Linked DNA regions of Homo sapiens: region 1 is linked to region 2. The links come from fine-mapping of genetic effects on gene expression. Tissue or cell type: NK cells. Region 2 holds a variant in brackets; the other region holds the start of a gene. All regions are shown on one strand. Distances are from middle to middle.

What was found. PIP is the estimated chance that this variant, and not a neighbour inherited with it, causes the effect.
Region 1: GCHFR starts here. The variant in region 2 is fine-mapped to the expression of GCHFR in NK cells (Gilchrist 2021, PIP 0.95). The same link has a PIP of 0.9 or more in whole blood.

The regions. Positions count from the first base shown.
Region 1 is chr15:40,759,957-40,768,056 of GRCh38, reverse strand. It overlaps GCHFR (GTP cyclohydrolase I feedback regulator), which reads right to left and starts at 3,989. Exons shown (of 3, transcript NM_005258.3): 1 at 3,841-3,989; 2 at 2,136-2,230; 3 at 349-831. The coding sequence starts at 3,876. The coding sequence ends at 708. It overlaps DNAJC17 (DnaJ heat shock protein family (Hsp40) member C17), which reads left to right. Exons shown (of 11, transcript NM_018163.3): 11 at 1-2,896. The coding sequence ends at 117. LOC124903474 (a long non-coding RNA gene) reads left to right here and starts at 6,789. Exons shown (of 2, transcript XR_007064599.1): 1 at 6,789-7,250; 2 at 7,331-7,583. It also overlaps the pseudogene SUMO2P15. RefSeq lists enhancers at 1,877-2,666, 3,444-4,309 and a silencer at 3,976-4,425.
Region 2 is chr15:40,800,300-40,808,399 of GRCh38, reverse strand. It overlaps DNAJC17 (DnaJ heat shock protein family (Hsp40) member C17), which reads left to right and starts at 927. Exons shown (of 11, transcript NM_018163.3): 1 at 927-1,031. The coding sequence starts at 954. ZFYVE19 (zinc finger FYVE-type containing 19) reads right to left here and starts at 1,311. Exons shown (of 11, transcript NM_001077268.2): 1 at 532-1,311. The coding sequence starts at 810. RefSeq lists enhancers at 279-328, 959-1,008, 1,049-1,098, 1,559-1,648. The variant G/A (reference allele first, on the strand shown) is at 4,420.

The DNA of each region.
Region 1 (8,100 bases), 40 kb after region 2:
GTGCTGTCAGAGAGGGACTACGAGAGCCTCGTCATGATGCGCATGCGCCAGGCGGCCGAGCGGCAACAGCTGATCGCACGGATGCAGCAGGAAGACCAGGAGGGGCCGCCTACGTAGCCCCAGCTCCAGCCATCCACCCCTCAGCCCTTTTCTTCAACGTCACCAATAAATTTTTTTTTTTTTTAAGATTTTACCTCTATCCCATACATAGGTATAAGGTGCTGGGCTCTGCCGCAGAGCGCTCCACCCAGGCCTGGCGCCCCTCCCAGGAAGTGGGCAGACCCCCAGGGAAACGCTCCGCAGGGTGAGAGTCCCAGAGTCCGTGCACAAGCAGAGCACAGGCGCAGCCACTCATCACAGCCCTTTATTGGCTTGGGCTAGCTATGCAGGAGCCACGCGCCAGGGCCGCTGGAGTGCCCAGCTCCGGCCCGGGGCAGCTGCCCGAGGAACATGGCCTACACAAGGCCCTCGGCCCAGGCCCGAAGCAGGAGGGCAGCTGGGAGCACCAGGGCACCGGGCACTGCCCTCTCCCACTGCTTGACGCAGGGTTTCAGAGAAGGCCATTCACTGCCCTTTGGGGCTGGGCCCATGGCGGTGATGATTTGGGAAGAGAGGAGCAAGGCAGACGGTGAGGCAGGAGCTTGGAGGTCAGGGCCCACAGCAGCCCCTCCACAGGGGTGCCCCGTCTGCAAATCAGCATGAGAAGGTCACTCCTTGTGCAGACACCACACCAGCGTCTGGCCCACCCCCGTCATGCTCAGCACACGGAAGCCCCTGCGTTCCAGCTTGTCCAGGACTATGCGGGGAGGGTCATCGACGTAGTATTCATAACTGCAAAGAGACAGGATGGGGGGGGTGAGGAGGGGCACACAGCAAGCTCCTGGTACAAAGCTAGTGTCTGCAGCAGGCAGCCTGGCCACTCTTGTAGTGACTCACACTTGCTGGCTGCTTGCTGGGCGCTGGGGTAAGTGCACGCCCCCTGCCTCCTCCCCTTCTAGGTACTTCACGAGCTATCTCATTTATTCTTCCCAACAAGCTAGTGAAGGTGCCACTGTTGTGGCCATTGATAGATGAGAAAACAGAGGGGTTAATCAGGTTCCCCAGCGTCCCAGATGGTAGACCATGTTAGTCTGACCACAGCCCTGCTGCCGCCCTCCCTGGGCTTGCTCCCCACCCAGGCTTCCAGGTAGGAGGAGGCTGAGGCTGCAGTGAGCCATGATTGCACCACCGCACTCCAGCCTGGGCGACAGAGACTCCATTTCAAAAAAAAATAAGCCTCCAGGCCCCTCACTGCCCTGGCTGTCCTGCAGTTCTGTAGCAACAAGGCTGAGCCCCAGTAGCTCCTGGCTCTGTGCGCCACTCCCTAGCATGGAGAGTGCTGGTAGTCCTTCTGTCAGGTTTAATTGATGCTGAAAGACCATGAAGCAGACAAAGGGCTCAAGCCCCAAGCTGGGCATGGAGAGGCAAGTGCCTCATGGCAAAGGGAGGGGGCTGGCTTCTGTCCCCGAGCCTTGACCCAGGGGCTGGGATCAGCCCTCCTCTTTCCCCGATTTGAACTGGCACTCACTCTGACAACTCTTTTCAGAGAGCCTGTGTAGCTTGGGTTCTCCCTGCCTCCAGGGGTGAGAGGAGGAATGGAAGCAGTAGTCACAGTTTAGACATGGAGGCATTAGGAAGAATGCCAAGGGAAATGGCTAGGTCCCCAGGCAGCAGCCACCCTGGAGGTAGGACGCAGGCTCCCTGCTCCCTGCTTCTAGGGCTTAGCTTTGCGACTCATGCAGATCCTCACGACAAAAACCTTTCTCTCTGTGCCTGTCTGTCCTTGATGGGGTCCAGCTTAGGAGAGGGCAGGGCAAGGAACAGTCTGCTAGTGGAGTCCTAGACCCAGGGAACGGACTCTGTTTCTGCGGTTCCAGTAAGGATGTGGAAAGCTTTCAGAGCAAGCCTCGTGGGGGAGAGGGGGGATGTTGGAGAGGCTACAGATGGGACCAACTCCTCCGGAGAACAGAGCCCCAGGATGCAGGCAGGGGGCTCTGATGCTGGGCCCTGTCCCTGGGCTTGGAGGTTGTATAAAGGGAGCAGAGGCAGGTCTAGGGGCTGGCAGGGAGAGGATACTGAGGGAGGCTGCTACTTACAAGTTGTTTCCCAAGGCTCTTCTCTTTGAAGCCCCCAGATGCTGCATCAGCTCTGGATCCGACTGTTCATCGCCCACCATAGTGGGGCCCACCTCCTGCAAGGTAAGCCACAGTGGCTGCTTGGCTGGCTGCCAGGAGGAGGTGGAAGGTCTTGCCTGTCCTTCCTCCCCTGCCTGCTAGCCCTGAGTAAGGTTCAGGTAAAGGCTACAGAGAGTAGCAAGGATTCTTAGGGGCTGAGCACAAGCTGTGAAGGGGTGGAGCCCATCAATGATCAGGAGGAGCAATGTAGGCGCCCTCCCTAGTGCCTTAAAGCTCAGCTTTAGCCAGGCAAAGTATCACGAGCCTATAGTTCCAGCTACTGAGGCTGAGGTGGGAGGATCGCTTGAGGTGGGAGGAGTTTGAGGCTGCAGTGAGCCATGATTGCACCACTGCACTCCAGCCTGGGTGACAGAGTGAGACTCCATTTCAAAAAAACAAAACAAAATAAACATGTAAATGAAAGAAGCCAGACTCAGATCACATTACCACAGAAAGGTAATTAGTGGTTATCTAGGGCTGAGGGACTTGGGGGAAATCAAGAGTGTCTGCCAGTGGGTACAGGGTTTCCTTTTGGGGTATTAGAAATGTTCTAAAACTGATTATGGTGATGGTTGCACAACTCTGAGTACACTAAAGAAACAACAACACTGAATTGTACACTTTAAATCAAAGAATTTATGGTATGCACATTACATATCAATAAAGCCATATCTTTTAAGAAATAAGAATCACTTTGGGGGGCCATTTCCAAGTATGGGTTCCCAAGCCCCAGACAGAGTTTTAGGAGGTCTGGGAAGGGACCCAGGAATCCACATTTTGGCAGCTGAGCAGATGGCTGCTTCACAAACCGCTGCCCAGGGCTCTGCAAGAGCTCTCTGTTGCGTGGTGAACCCACCAAGGGGGTTGTGTACCCTTTGCTGGTTCACCCCAGCACTGGGCAGTGAGCAAGGGCAGAGAGCACCTTGCTGCCCGTCATGTCTTTCTGAAGCTAAAAGGGGACTCCTGAGGGGCAATCAGAACCTTTTTACAGATAAGGAAACTGCGCCCAGAGAAAGGAACGTGACTTCTAACTCATGGTGTTCCCACCTCTAACTGCACAGCCCCTTCTCGCCTTCCTTTTTTCCAAGCAGGGTGTTCTTTCTTTTCTTCCTTCCCTAAAGCTTCAGGGATAGCCCTTCCTGGAAGTGCCTAAGGGTGCAGCTAGTTGCTGTTTATGGGTCAAGGACTTGGCACCGGGGTTTTAGCGCCTTGGCAGGTCCTTATCTTTTCCAAACCTCTTTCTCTCAGGTTATTCGCCCTTTTTTCCCCTGCGGAGCGGCTCTGTGCAGGGCACTAGGTGCTGCGCGTGAGGCCAGGGCTCCCTGGGTCTCTCCCGCCGACAGGTAGGACAGGAGCCGGAAGCGCCCGGAGGTCGCCCTGTTGCCGGGACGCACGTACCCGGGCCCCTTCGCGGCAATAAAGGCTTCAGGCCGGCCAGAGCTCGCTGAGTCCCGGAAGCCGAGCTGAGCCCGCTTCTCCACTCCCTCTCCCCGGCCAAGGGGGCGTGTCTGGGCGGGTTCCCGGTCCAGTCCCCGGTGGGTGCAGCCCAGGAGGGAGGCATGAAGGTGCAGTCGCAGCCCCCTAGGGCCTGGTCCCGGCTCCAAGTCGCCAGGCGGCCGGTACTCACCATGCGGATCTGGGTGCTGATGAGCAGGTAGGGCATGGTGCACGCGTCCCGGCCTGGCTCCCACCGGGGGCTCTAGGCTGGACGCCGACTCCAGCCCTTCTCGCGTCGGGACTGCGACGCGCAGCTGGGAGTCCCGTTACTCCGGCTCTGGCCACAGGCGGCGTCAATCCCGGGGCACCTTGCCCGTGACCGCCGTGGCCGCCAATCAGGAGCGGCTGCCGTGACGCGCCCTGCAGTCGGCGGTTCGGGGCCCGCCCCCGCCCTCCCGGCGGCGGACTTGGACCCCGGGGCCCACCTGAGGCTTCCGCCGAGTGATCCAGTTGCGGGAAGGTGGAGTGCGGGGAGGAGGGGGCGGTCCCACGACCTGGAAGGACACTATCCTGAAGCTCCAGCGTCCTCCAGGACGCTTAGTGCTGTTTTCTTTGCAGCCTGTGATCTTACTGCGTCCCCGCGCGCGTGTTGCCCCCGCGCCCGCTTCTTGAACACTTCAGGCCAGGTTCCAAAGTCCCCTGCCAGGCAGAGCCCAGAGCAAACGGCGTCCTCACGGAGGCCTCTCCAGGCCCCAGCCCACCCCTCTCAGAGACGCCTCGACAGCTTCAACGGGGCCCCACTTCCCCTCGCCAAGACATGCGCTCCAGAGATTCCTTAAGCGCTGAGGAGGCCGGGGCACGAGGCTCGGAGCTAGCCCTGAAGGCGACAACTAAAATACCACCCAGGGCGCACTGTGCATTCCCCCTCCCAGACTCTAATTCCAGCACAGAGGCGGATCCTTGCATTTCTGTGGACCCGCAGGAAAGTCTGTAAAGGAACCGCGCGCTTGGCTGGGTGCCAGGTCTGGAGTGACTGAATGGATGGAACCTGGCCTTCCCTCCCCTGAGCTTCCCGCGCAGCTGGACAGACGCGGCGCACGCGCAGGAGGTCACTGGGCAACACCTGGGGCAAATGAAACAACTTCCCCCGCACCAGCCACCAATGAGCGGCTGCGAGTTCCCAACCGTGTGTCCACGCCCCTCATCCGCAGTTATCAAAATCTGACAACTCATCCTTCTTTATCTGCCTTGTTGTGATTGGTTTTCTTTTTTCTTTTCTTTTTTTTTTTTTTTTTTGGACATGGAGTTTCGCTCTTATTGTCCAGGCCGGAGCGCAATGGCGCGATCTCCGCTCACCGCAATCTCCGCCTCCCAGGTTCAAGCGATTATCCTGCCTCAGCCTCCTGAGTAGCTGGGATTACAGGCCTGCGCCACGACGCCCGGCTAATTTTGTATTTTTAGTAGAGACGGCGTTTCTCCATTTTGGTCAGGCTGGTGGCGAACTCCCGACCTCAGGTGATCCACCCGCCTTGGCCTCCCAAAGAGCTGGGATTACAGGCGTGAGCCACCGCATCCGGCCTGTGATTGGTTTTCTAGAAAATAAAGCAAAACAAAAACAGCCTGTAGGTAGCCTTCCCTCCCATGGGAGGGTAATAATCTTCACTTTTTAAGAGGGGCCTTTATAGGGGATGCTGCCGTTCCAACACTTTGACAGACGTGGAGAGAGCTATAAGGGAAGCAGGAAGTTGTAATCCTAAACGTTCCTTAACTGGTCTAATTTATTATTCTGTAGTTCCTACCCCTGCCCTCTTACCCACTGACCTAACAAGTTAGCCAGAGAGATAAAACACATTCATGCTTAACAAAGGATGTGTTAAAACTGACGAAAGGGCCGGGCGCGGTGGCTCACGCTGCTAATCCCAGAACTTTGGGAGGCCGAGGCGGGCGGATCACGAGGTCAGGAAATCGAGACCATCCTGGCTTAACACAGTGAAACCCCGTCTCTACTAAAAGTACAAAAAATTAGCCGGGCGTGGTGGGGGCCGCCTGTAGTTCCAGCTACTCGGGAGGCTGAGGCAGGAGAATGGCGTGAACCTGGGAGGCGGAGCTTGCAGTGAGCCGAGATTGGTTGGGCCACTGCACTCCAGCCTGGGGCAGAGCAATACTTCGTCTCAAAAAAAAAAAAAAAAAAAAAAACTAACAAAAGATTGATGCCCAGGAGCTCCTACAACTCAGTGAGAAAAAGATGAACAATGGAAAAAACAGGGGTAACTGACTTGAATAGGCCCTTCACAAAAGAGGAAATAGAAATGACCAATAAACATATAACATGATGCCTAGTATATCATTAGAAATACAGGAAATACAAATTAAAGTCAATTTTACTTTTTTTCATTTTAACCAAATTTATTTAAACCCCAAGACTTTGTAGACACAGTGGCTCACGCCTGTAATCTAAGCACTTTGGGAGGCCAAGGTGGGAGGATCGCTTGAGCCCAGAAGGTTGAGGCTGCAGTGAGCCATGATTTGGTTTATTTTTAAGTAATTTATCCCTACTTAAAGACAGATTACCCTACATGTGAAAGCTATGTACAAAAATCATCCACTGATTAGAAGGATTTTTTTAAGTTATACAATTGTCCTTGGTTTTTACAATGATAAATGAAAAACATTAAAATTCTTCAGTTGAATAAAGTATGGAAGGATTTTTATGTTGTCATTTTTTAGTTAAAACAGAGCAAAATATAACTCACTGGAATATAGAGACAAGAGCTGAGCCGGGCACGGTGGCTCATGCCTGTAATCCCAGCACTTTGGGAGGCCGAGGTGGGTGGATCACTTGAGTTCAGGAGTTCGAGACCAGCTTGGCTAACATGGTGAAACCCTGTCCTACTGAAAATACAAAAATTAGCTGGGCGTGGTGGCACACACCTGTAGTCCCAGCTACTCGGGAGGCTGAGGCAGGAGAATCGCTTGAACCAAGGAGGCAGAGGTTGCAGTGAGCTGAGATCATGCCACTGCACTTCAGCCTGGGTGACTGAGTGAGACTCTGTCTCAAAAAAAAAAAAAAGTCAGATGTGGTAGCACATGCCTGTAGTCCCGCTTGAACCTGGCAGGCGGAGGCTGCAGTGGGCCAAGATTACACCACTGCACTCCAGCCTGGGCAACAGAGCAAGACTTCATCTAAAATAAATATATGAAAAAAAGATAAGAGCTGAATGAGCATGCCAAGAATGGAGAAAGGGGGTATTTTCACAGAAGCAGTATTTTTCCCAGTCCCATCTCCACCTGATGTCAATCAGAACACACCATTGGCCATTTTACAAAAAAACAAACAAAAACACAAATGCAATACGCTGGTGCACACATACCCATTACTGTATGTACAGCAAAGGAAAGGGGAAGGTGAAAATGAAATAAAACTATACTATATTGGTCGGGATGTAGTGGAACCAAATTGCAGTTTTCTAATTGAGGATGTAATCTTGGTCTGTAAGAACAGAGGTTTGGAGTAAAGTAGTAGGTTCCTTTTTTAGTAGACACCTGTCTCCTGCAGGAAAACGTCAATTGTGTATTCATCCTCCATTACCAACTGTGCAGGTATGTCTGTTTCATTGATTGACTGCCCATCAAATCCGAATCTGATCTGCCTCATTGACAAATCCTGTTATTCACAATAGGCTCTCATCAGTTTACTAGGCAGTGTATGCCTCTTAAACTGCGCCACAGAACTATCCTGCCACACCACCTTCAAACAAATATGATCGTTGTTCTCAGTCTTAACTTCTTCCTTGAGCTTCCATGGCCATGGCAAGCACCAGAATCTCTGCAGCTGCTGCTTCACAAAGCAGGTACTGTTACCGCCCTCAAGGGAGGGTCGCTTGACCCGTCCAGTGCAGTTCTTACCAATAAAATGAAACCAGGTTCAGTAAAGCAGAGCAGAAACGTTCATTGGTCAAGAATGGAAAAGGGGAGCTTCTGCTCAAAGCACCTGCTCCCTGGACATTGGGTAAAGGGGGATCTTAAGGGTTTTTTGGGCAGATAGGTGAAGACTGGGGTAGGGATTCCTGGATGGGTTCTTCCAGGAGCAGCTGGAGTGTGTAGATTCTTTTTGCACCTGGCACTGTTTGTGCTTAGCAAGGTACATTTCTCCGCACTGAGTGGAGATTTTAGTATAGCAGTGAAGCAGTAACTCAGGTCAAGGCAGCACTGCTGAGTTCAGTTCATCTTGTGGCTGGTTCCTGGTTATTGGCACCTGGCCTTTGTTTCTGTAAGCAAGCGCAGCTGGGAGGATGGTTAATTTCACAGGTTTTGGGACTTCCTGAAAGAACTGAGGGCCAGCGCAGTGGCCCCCGCCTGTAGTCCCAGCACTTTGGGAGTCCAAGACATGCATATCACCTGAGGCTGGGAGTTAGAGACCACCCTGGCAAACATGATGAAGACCCGTCTC
Region 2 (8,100 bases):
CACAACTGAGGCAGAGGGAACCTGCAGTTTACCAGAGGAATCTGGCAGGTCTGTGATAGGGACAGGACAGTCAGCCTTCACCATGGTGCCCCGGAAGCAGGAGGAAGTGTGGTAATCTAACTCCAGCGACCTGGAGAAGGGCAGGCTGCGGGATGGGGAAGATTTCAGAGCAGAGGGAGTAACGGGCTTGGTGTGATGGACACCGCGCTTCGGAGGAGCAGGGTGGAGAGAAGAAAACCGCCAGATGCTACACTGGGCCGACAGAAAAGAGTAGCTTTGCAAAAACGACGGCAGCGCGCTTTACAGTTTATAGGGAACTCTCACCTAAAGCACTTCAGTGGACCCTCACATAAACCCTGAAAGCGAGAGAATGTTAGCCCCATTTTACAGAAATGGAAACTGAGGATCAATGACTTCATCAAAACCACACAGCTGGAAAGGAGCCGTAAGACCAAGTCTTTGGACGTTAAGTCCCGCGCTTTTCCCTCCTCTCCTCCCTGGCCCTGCAGCCCTCGGGGAGGGAAGACTCGCCTCCTTCTTGAAGAGGGTGAACTTGACAGCGCAGCCGTAGCACCTACTCTCCATGGTGGCTCCCAGCACCGCAGGGTCTGCAGAGCTGAGATCACGCCGGCCAAGTCCTGGGCCCCTTGGACCCTCACCCCAGCTCCGCCCTTCCCTTCCCTGCCCTGCCCCGCCCCACACGCCCACTGGCACTGTCCCGCCGCGACCTAGAGCAGGGAATCCGGACGCTCTCCTGCAGCCAGCGTACGGCAGCGGCGGCAACGGGGGCTGCTGGGAGTCGTAGTTCATTCACGACTGCCGGCCTCCCTCAGAGTCAGTCAAGCCTGACCCAGAACACAATTCCCAGAGGGCTAGGCGCCGCTCGGAGCCTGCAGTCCTCACGCGCGCTTAGACTCTTGGGAGTTGTAGTACGAATCCGTCAGGCCGGAACCATGGCAGTGACCAAGGAGCTCTTACAGATGGACCTGTACGCGCTGCTAGGCATTGAGGAGAAGGCAGCGGACAAAGAGGTGAGAACGGTGGCGAGGAAGGCTGATCTTGAGAGGTCTGGCGGTCCTTCCTGTCCTAGCGCCTCGGCCACTGCTGGCATCCGCTCTCCAGGTTCATTCGGGTCCTGGGCGGGGAGCGAGGGTCGGCGCTATGCCCTCCGCAGGCGGGCTCCCAGACATTTCCTGGACGGTCCGAGGGCCTCAAGAGGAAGCGGGGTACAGAGGGCTCTTCGCGCCGGGTGGCTGTGCTCTCCCCGTGGCCCCTGTCTCCTAGAGGCCGCGGGGCGAGGCAGCAAGGAACGCTAGCCTCCTCTGCGCCTGCGCAGTCTCGGCCTCCGTTTCCGCTTCTGCCTTGACTGTGACAAGAGGTGCCTCATTTCAGTCTCTTCTGCAGGCTGATTTAATTCTTCCACTAAGAGCCTAGAACGAAAGAAAAGTAAGATCTCAAAGCCTCTCCACTCCCTTTTCATGCCCCCTTGCCAATGTGACCGATGACCCTGCTGTCTCTATTTTCTTTTCCACTCAAGCCCATTGACTCTTTTCAAGTAGCTGATGCCCTTCTCAGCATGTGCTAGTTAGTGGGCTAAAAGCAGGAGGATCAGAAGGTTAAGGCAGATGGTATAGAGGTCCATGCTACCTTAGGTGGTGATAAAGATGCCAGGGAGTGAAACACTGATCAAGCTGGATTTAGGATTTCTTTTATCTCCCCCTGGATCATGGTGGTAGTTTTAACAATATACGAAGGAGAGGCGTTCATCAAATGAAAATTAGTGCCCAACTGAGCCGAGATCGCGCCACTGCACTCCATCCTGGGCGACAGAGCAAGACTCTTTCTCAAAAAAAGAAAGAAAGAAAGAAAATTAGTGTCTACTAGGCCGGGCGCGGTGGCTCACGCCTGTAATCTCAGCACTTTGGGAGGCCGAGGCGGGCGGATCATGTGGTCAGAAGTTCGAGACCAGCCTGACCAATATGCTGAAACCCCTTCTCTACTAAAAATACAAAAATTAGCCGGGCGTGGTGGCACACACCTGTAGTCCCAGCTACTTGGGAGGCTGAGGCAGGAGAATCACTGGAACCCGGGAGGCGGAGGTTGCAGTGAGCTGAGATTGCACCACTGCACTCCAGTCTGGGCGACAGAGCGAGACTGTCTCAAAAAAAAAAAAAAAAAAGGAAAAAAAAATAGTGCCCACTAATGTCCCAGTACTTCTGGGCTGCCCTGCTCATGGGGTGAGTGAGCTTTTGAGAAGAGGAAGCTCTGGGGCAGAAAATCAGAGAGACCCAGAGGGCCCTTGAGAAATGCTGTCAACCTGCACAAATCTGTCCCCTGCAGCCGCAGCTGAAATCAGAAATGGCCATGGGATGTCTATGAAGCATCAAAAGCATCTGCTCCACCTCTCTCGTGTTTCAATATTTTAGGATTAATAATTCCTAACATCTGTATAATGCTTACTATGTCCTAGACAGTATTTTTTTTTTCTGGATAGTATTCTAAGTGCTCTATGTTTACAAATTATTATTTTTTAAATTCTTTATTATTATTATTTTTTATTATTGTTTTTGAGACGGAGTCTCGCTCTGTGGCCCAGGCTGGAGTGCAGTGGCGCGATCTCGGCTTACTGCAACCTCCGCCTCTCGGGTTCACGCCATTCTCCTGCCTGAGCCTCTCCAAGTAGCTGGGACTACAGGCGCCTGCCACCATGCCCGGCTAATAATTTTTATTTTTAGTAGAGACGGGGTTTCACCGTGGTCTCGATCTCCTGACCTCGTGATCTGCCCACCTCAGCCTCCCAAAGTGCTGGGATTACAAGCGTGAGCCACCGTGCCCGGCCTATTATTATTTTTTGAGACGGAGTCTCGCTCTGTCGCCCAGGCTGGAGTGCAGTGGCGCAATCTCAGCTTACTGCAACTTCTGCCTCCCAGGTTCAAGCGATTCTCCTGCCTCAGCCTCCGGAGTAGCTGGGACTACAGGCATGTACCACCACGCCCGGCTAATTTTTTTTTTTTTTTTTTTTTTGAGACAGAGTATCACTCTTTGGCCCAGGCTGGAGTGCAGTGGCATGATCTCGGCTCACTGCAACCTCCGCCTTCCTGTTTCAAGTGATTCTCCTGCCTCAGCCTCCCAAGTAGCTGGGATTACAGGCACCCGCCACCACGCCCAGCTAATTTTTGTATTTTTAGTAGAGACGGGGTCTCACCGTGTTGGCCAGGCCAGTCTTGGATTCCTGACCTCGTGATCTTCCCACCTCGGCCTCCCAAAGTGCTGGGATTACAGGTGTGAGCCACTATGCCCTGCCTGCAAATTATTTAATTAGTACTTTATTAATAGTGAGAAACTATTTGAGACATTTCACAAAAGATCCAAGTGGGAAATCTGGAGGGTTTTTTTTTGAGACGGAGTCTCACTCTCTTGCCTAGGCTGGAGTGCAGTGGTGCAACCTTGGCTCACTGCAACCTCTGCCCCCCAGGTTCAGGGAATTCTCCTGCCTCAGCCTCCTGAGCAGCTGGGATTACAGGCATGTGCCACCACACCCAGCTAATTTTTGTGTTTTTATCAGAGACAGGGTTTCACCATGTTGGTCAGGCTGGTCTTGAACTCCTGACCTCAAGTGATCTGCCGGCCTTGGCCTCCCAAAGTGCTGGGATTACAGGCGTGAGCCACCGCGCCCGGCTGAAATCTAGAGTTTCTAACCCTGAAGTTGAGAACTCCTGAGGAAGTCAGTTGGAAGTCATTCTCTATTAATTAGAGAAGTTACATAATCAGATTTTATTTTTTTTTTATTTTTATGTCTATTTTTTGAGAAAAGATCTCACTGTCATTCAGGCTGGAATGCAGTGGCACAATCACAGCTCACTGCAGCCTCGACTTCCTGGGCTCAAGTGATCCCACCTCAGCCTCTCATGTAGTTGGGACTGCAGGTGTGCATCATCATGCCTGGCTAATTTGTTTTGTGTTTGTTTTTGCTTTTTTTTTTTTTCCAGAGACGGGGTCCAGCTATATTGCCCAGGCTGGTGTCGAACTCCTGGGTTCAAGCTATCCTCCTGCCTGGTCTCCCAGAGTGCTGGGATTGCAGGCATGAGCCACTGTGCCCTGCCCATAATTGGATTTTAAAGAAAGTATTTGACTGAGTGTGATGGCTCACACCTGCAATCCCAGCACTTTGGGAGGCCAAGGTGGAAGGAACGCTTGAGGCCAGGAGTTTGAGACCAGCCTGGGAAACGTAGTGAGAGCCTGTCTCTCTCTCTATATATAAAAAAAAAAGCTGGGCAGGGTGTTACGCACCTGTAGTCCCCGCTACATGGGAGGCTGAGGTGGGAGGATCACTTGAGCCTGGGAAGTTTCAGTGAGCTATGATTTTGCCACTGTATTCCAGCCTGGATGACAGGGTGAGACCCTGCCACTCTTAAAAAA[G/A]AAAAGAAAATTCAACACTAGTGTGCATAATGAAAATGGGTGGGGGTGGGAGGAATGGAAGAGCTGCCACTAGGGGGTCAGATGGGGCTGGTGTCTAGGCAAGAGACCAAGGTCTGAGCTGGGCAGTGGTGGCTGGGATCCAGTTCTAACTCAGATGAGATAAGGGATAGGTGTGAAGCCACTCTATAAAGGGTAACAGGTGCTGCTCCTGCCTTTAATGGGGGGGCAAGATTCACGCATACAAGGGAGACATGGTGAGTTCCTTAAGAGGGGTACAAAGTGCTGTGGATGTTCAGTGTAGGCTGAGATTGCTATTAGTTTGAGAGAAGGAATAAAGGCAGGAGAGAAGGTATTTGGGGCCTTGAAGAATGGGCAGAGTTTGGACATGTGGAGATGGAGGCAGGGCATTCCAAGAAAGCAAATGTATATATTAATACATACAGTCTATTTTGGAGCATAAGTAGGTGGCACCCTCAAAGAGGCCTTACCTATTTTTCTTTTCATAGCAGCCATTCTCCTTTCTAGCACTTACTCCCATTTACACTTTGGATACACTGGCTAGCTTCATGGCAACACACTTTTTGGTAGAAAGCAAGAAAAACCTAGGCCCTGGTGTCCCCGCACCATGGTTTAATACCTGTCATAGACAACCTAGGTTGCTGCCATAGGGCAACCTAGAGGACAAACAAATATTTAAAGTGTATACAAGGAAGAACTCCTAAACTGGTTGTCCAAATAGCCTAGGAGTTCTCAATTTGCCCTCTACAGAAAGGCTCCAGGAACTGGGTGAAGGAACCTCTGAAAATCATGCGTGATTTTTTTTTTTTTTGTATTTATTCTGGAGGAGAGGAGGACTTTTTTTTTCTTTTTTTTTTTTTTGACCCAGGGTCTCTCTGTGTTACCCACGCTGGAGTCAGTGGCATGATTACTGCTCACTGCAAACTCTGCCTCCTGGGCTCAAGCAATCCTCCCACCTCAGCCTCAAAAGTAGCTGGGACCACAGGTGTGCACCGCCATGCCTGGCTAATTTTTGTATTTTTGTAGAGATCGGGTTCCACCATGTTGGCCAGGTTGGTCTTGAACTCCTGGGTTCAAGCAGTCCTCCCGCCTTGGCCTCTGAAAAGTGTTTGGGTTATAGGCATGAGCTACCACGCCTGGCCAGAGGAGGGAATTTTAATCCAAAAGTCAAAGAAGCCCTAATGGAGGCCAAGCTCCCTGTGTTACTGATGGCGAAACTGCAGCTCGGAGAAGGTGGTTAGTGGCAGAATTGGGACTAGAACCCTGATGCCCTGATGCCCTGATGCCCTGATGTCCAGCTCAGGCCTCTGCTCCTTCTGCTAAGGCTCCCTGGCCCTGTCCAGCGCGGTTCAGTGGTAGTGATGAGCACCACCACCAAATTTAACTTGTGTTCAGACTACTTCTCTGAATCTCAAATCTGTGTATCTATCTGCCTGTTTGATCCCTCCATGTGGATGTTTCACAGCGGTCTAAATCTTACTACATCCAAAAATTGGCCAGGCGCAGTGGCTCATGTCTGTAATCCCAGCACTTCGAGAGGCCCAGGCAGGCAGATCACCTGAGGTCAGGAGTTTTAGACAGCCTGGCCAACAGGGTGAAATCCTATCTCTACTAAAAATATAAAAACTAGCCAGACGCGGTGGCACGTGCCTGTAGTCCCAGCTACTGGGAGGCTGAGGCAGGAGAATCGCTTGAACCTGGGAGGCGGAGGTTGCAGTGAGCTGAGATCAAGCCACTGCACTCCAGCCTGGGTGACGGAGCTAGAATCTGTCTCGAAAAAAAAAAAAAAAAAAATTGAACTCTTTCAATTCTCTCTCCAAACCTGCTCCTTCCTTGGATTTCCCCATCTTGTGGCACCACCATCCATCCATTCAAGCTAGGAACCTGGAGTCATTCTCAGTACCTCCCTATCCTCTCACCCCTGCCATCTAGAACATCACCGGGTCCTGATGAGTCAGCCTCCCAAATAATCCCCAAACCTGTTCACCCTCTCTGTCTCCACCACTACTGCTCCAGCCCAGGCCCCCATCCACTCAGCTGAATGTTTAGAGGAGCCTGCCAACTTTTTTCTGCTTTCAGCCTATTCCATTCTGATCTATTGAGCCTCTCCAATTCTCCTCACAGAAAATGGAATGATCTTGCTACTCCCTGAAAACCCTATTTAGCACTTCTAATAAAATACTCAATAGAATTTCTTTTCTTTTCTTTTTTTTTTTTTTTTTTTTGAGACGGAGTCTCGCTCTGTCACCCAGGCTGGAGTGCAGTGGCTGCAAGCTCCGCCTCCCAGGTTCACGCCATTCTCCCGTCTCAGCCTCCTGAGTAGCTGGGACTACAGGCGCCCGCCACCACGCCCGGCTAATTTTTTGTATTTTTAGTAGAGACGGGGTTTCACCATTCACAGGATGGTCTTGATCTCCTGACCTCGTGATCCGCCCACCTCGGCCTCCCAAAGTGCTGGGATTGCAGGCGTGAGCCACCGCACCCAGCCAATACTCAACAATTTCTTAGCTCATTCATACATTTTCCTCTGCCAGGAATGCTCTTCCTCCCCTTCTGCTAATCTGGGTTGCTTTTACTTGTCCTTCAGAACTCAGTCGAAATGGCATCCTCAGAGAAGCCTTGCCTTATATTCTATTTCATGGCAGCTGGTTTTTCTTTTTTCTAGCACTTATTTCAGTTTGCAATTATGTATTTATCTGTGTGATTATTTGTCTCATGCCTTAATCCCCTCTGCACTCCTACTTCTGAGGACCAGATCTGATTCATGCTCTTCTGTAGCAGCCCCTTACCTGGTGACTGGCACATAGTAGGTTCTCAATAAGTATTTGTTGAATGAATGAAGTAGTAGCTAAAGAGACCACTGCAACGACTTTACTTGAGAATCAGGAGACCAAGGGCAGTCACTGCGTCTCTCAGGACCTGACTTTCCCCAAATGTAAAATGAAGGAGTAGGGCAAACTACAGTTTGAGGGGCCAAATGGCCCATGACCTTTTTTTTTTTTTTTTTGAGACGGAGTCTCGCTGTCGCCCAGGCTGGAGCATGGTGGCGCAATCTCGGCTCACTATAACCTCTGCCTCCCAGGTTCAAGCAATTCTCTGCTTCAGTCTCCGGAGTAGCCGAGATTACAGGCTCCTGCCACCACGCCTGGCTAATTTTTATATTTTTAGTGGAGATGTGGTTTCACTCTCTTGGCCTGGCTGGTCTTGAACTCCTGACCAAAGTGCTGGGATTACAGGCGTGAGCCACCGTGCCCAGCTGACCTTTTTTTTTTTTAATGGCTTATGTGCTAAGAATGGGTTTTACATGTTTAAATGATTGTAGAAAAAAAAACACAGCTCAACAACCAAAAAAACAACTCGGTTAAAAAATGGGCAAGCCAGGAGTTTGAAGTTACAGTGAGCTCTGATCACGCCACCATGCTCCAGCCTGGGTGACAGAGTGAAACTCTGTCTGTAAAAAAATTAAAAAAAAAAAAAGAAAAAGACAATCTCAATAGACATTTCCCCAAAGATGATGTACAAATGGTCAATAAACACATGAAAAGATGCTCAACTTCACTAGTCATTAGGTAAATGCAGATCAAAACCATGTTGAGGCCAGGTGCGGTGGCACACGCCTGTAATCCCAGCACTTTGGGAGGCCGAGGCAGGTGGATCACCTGA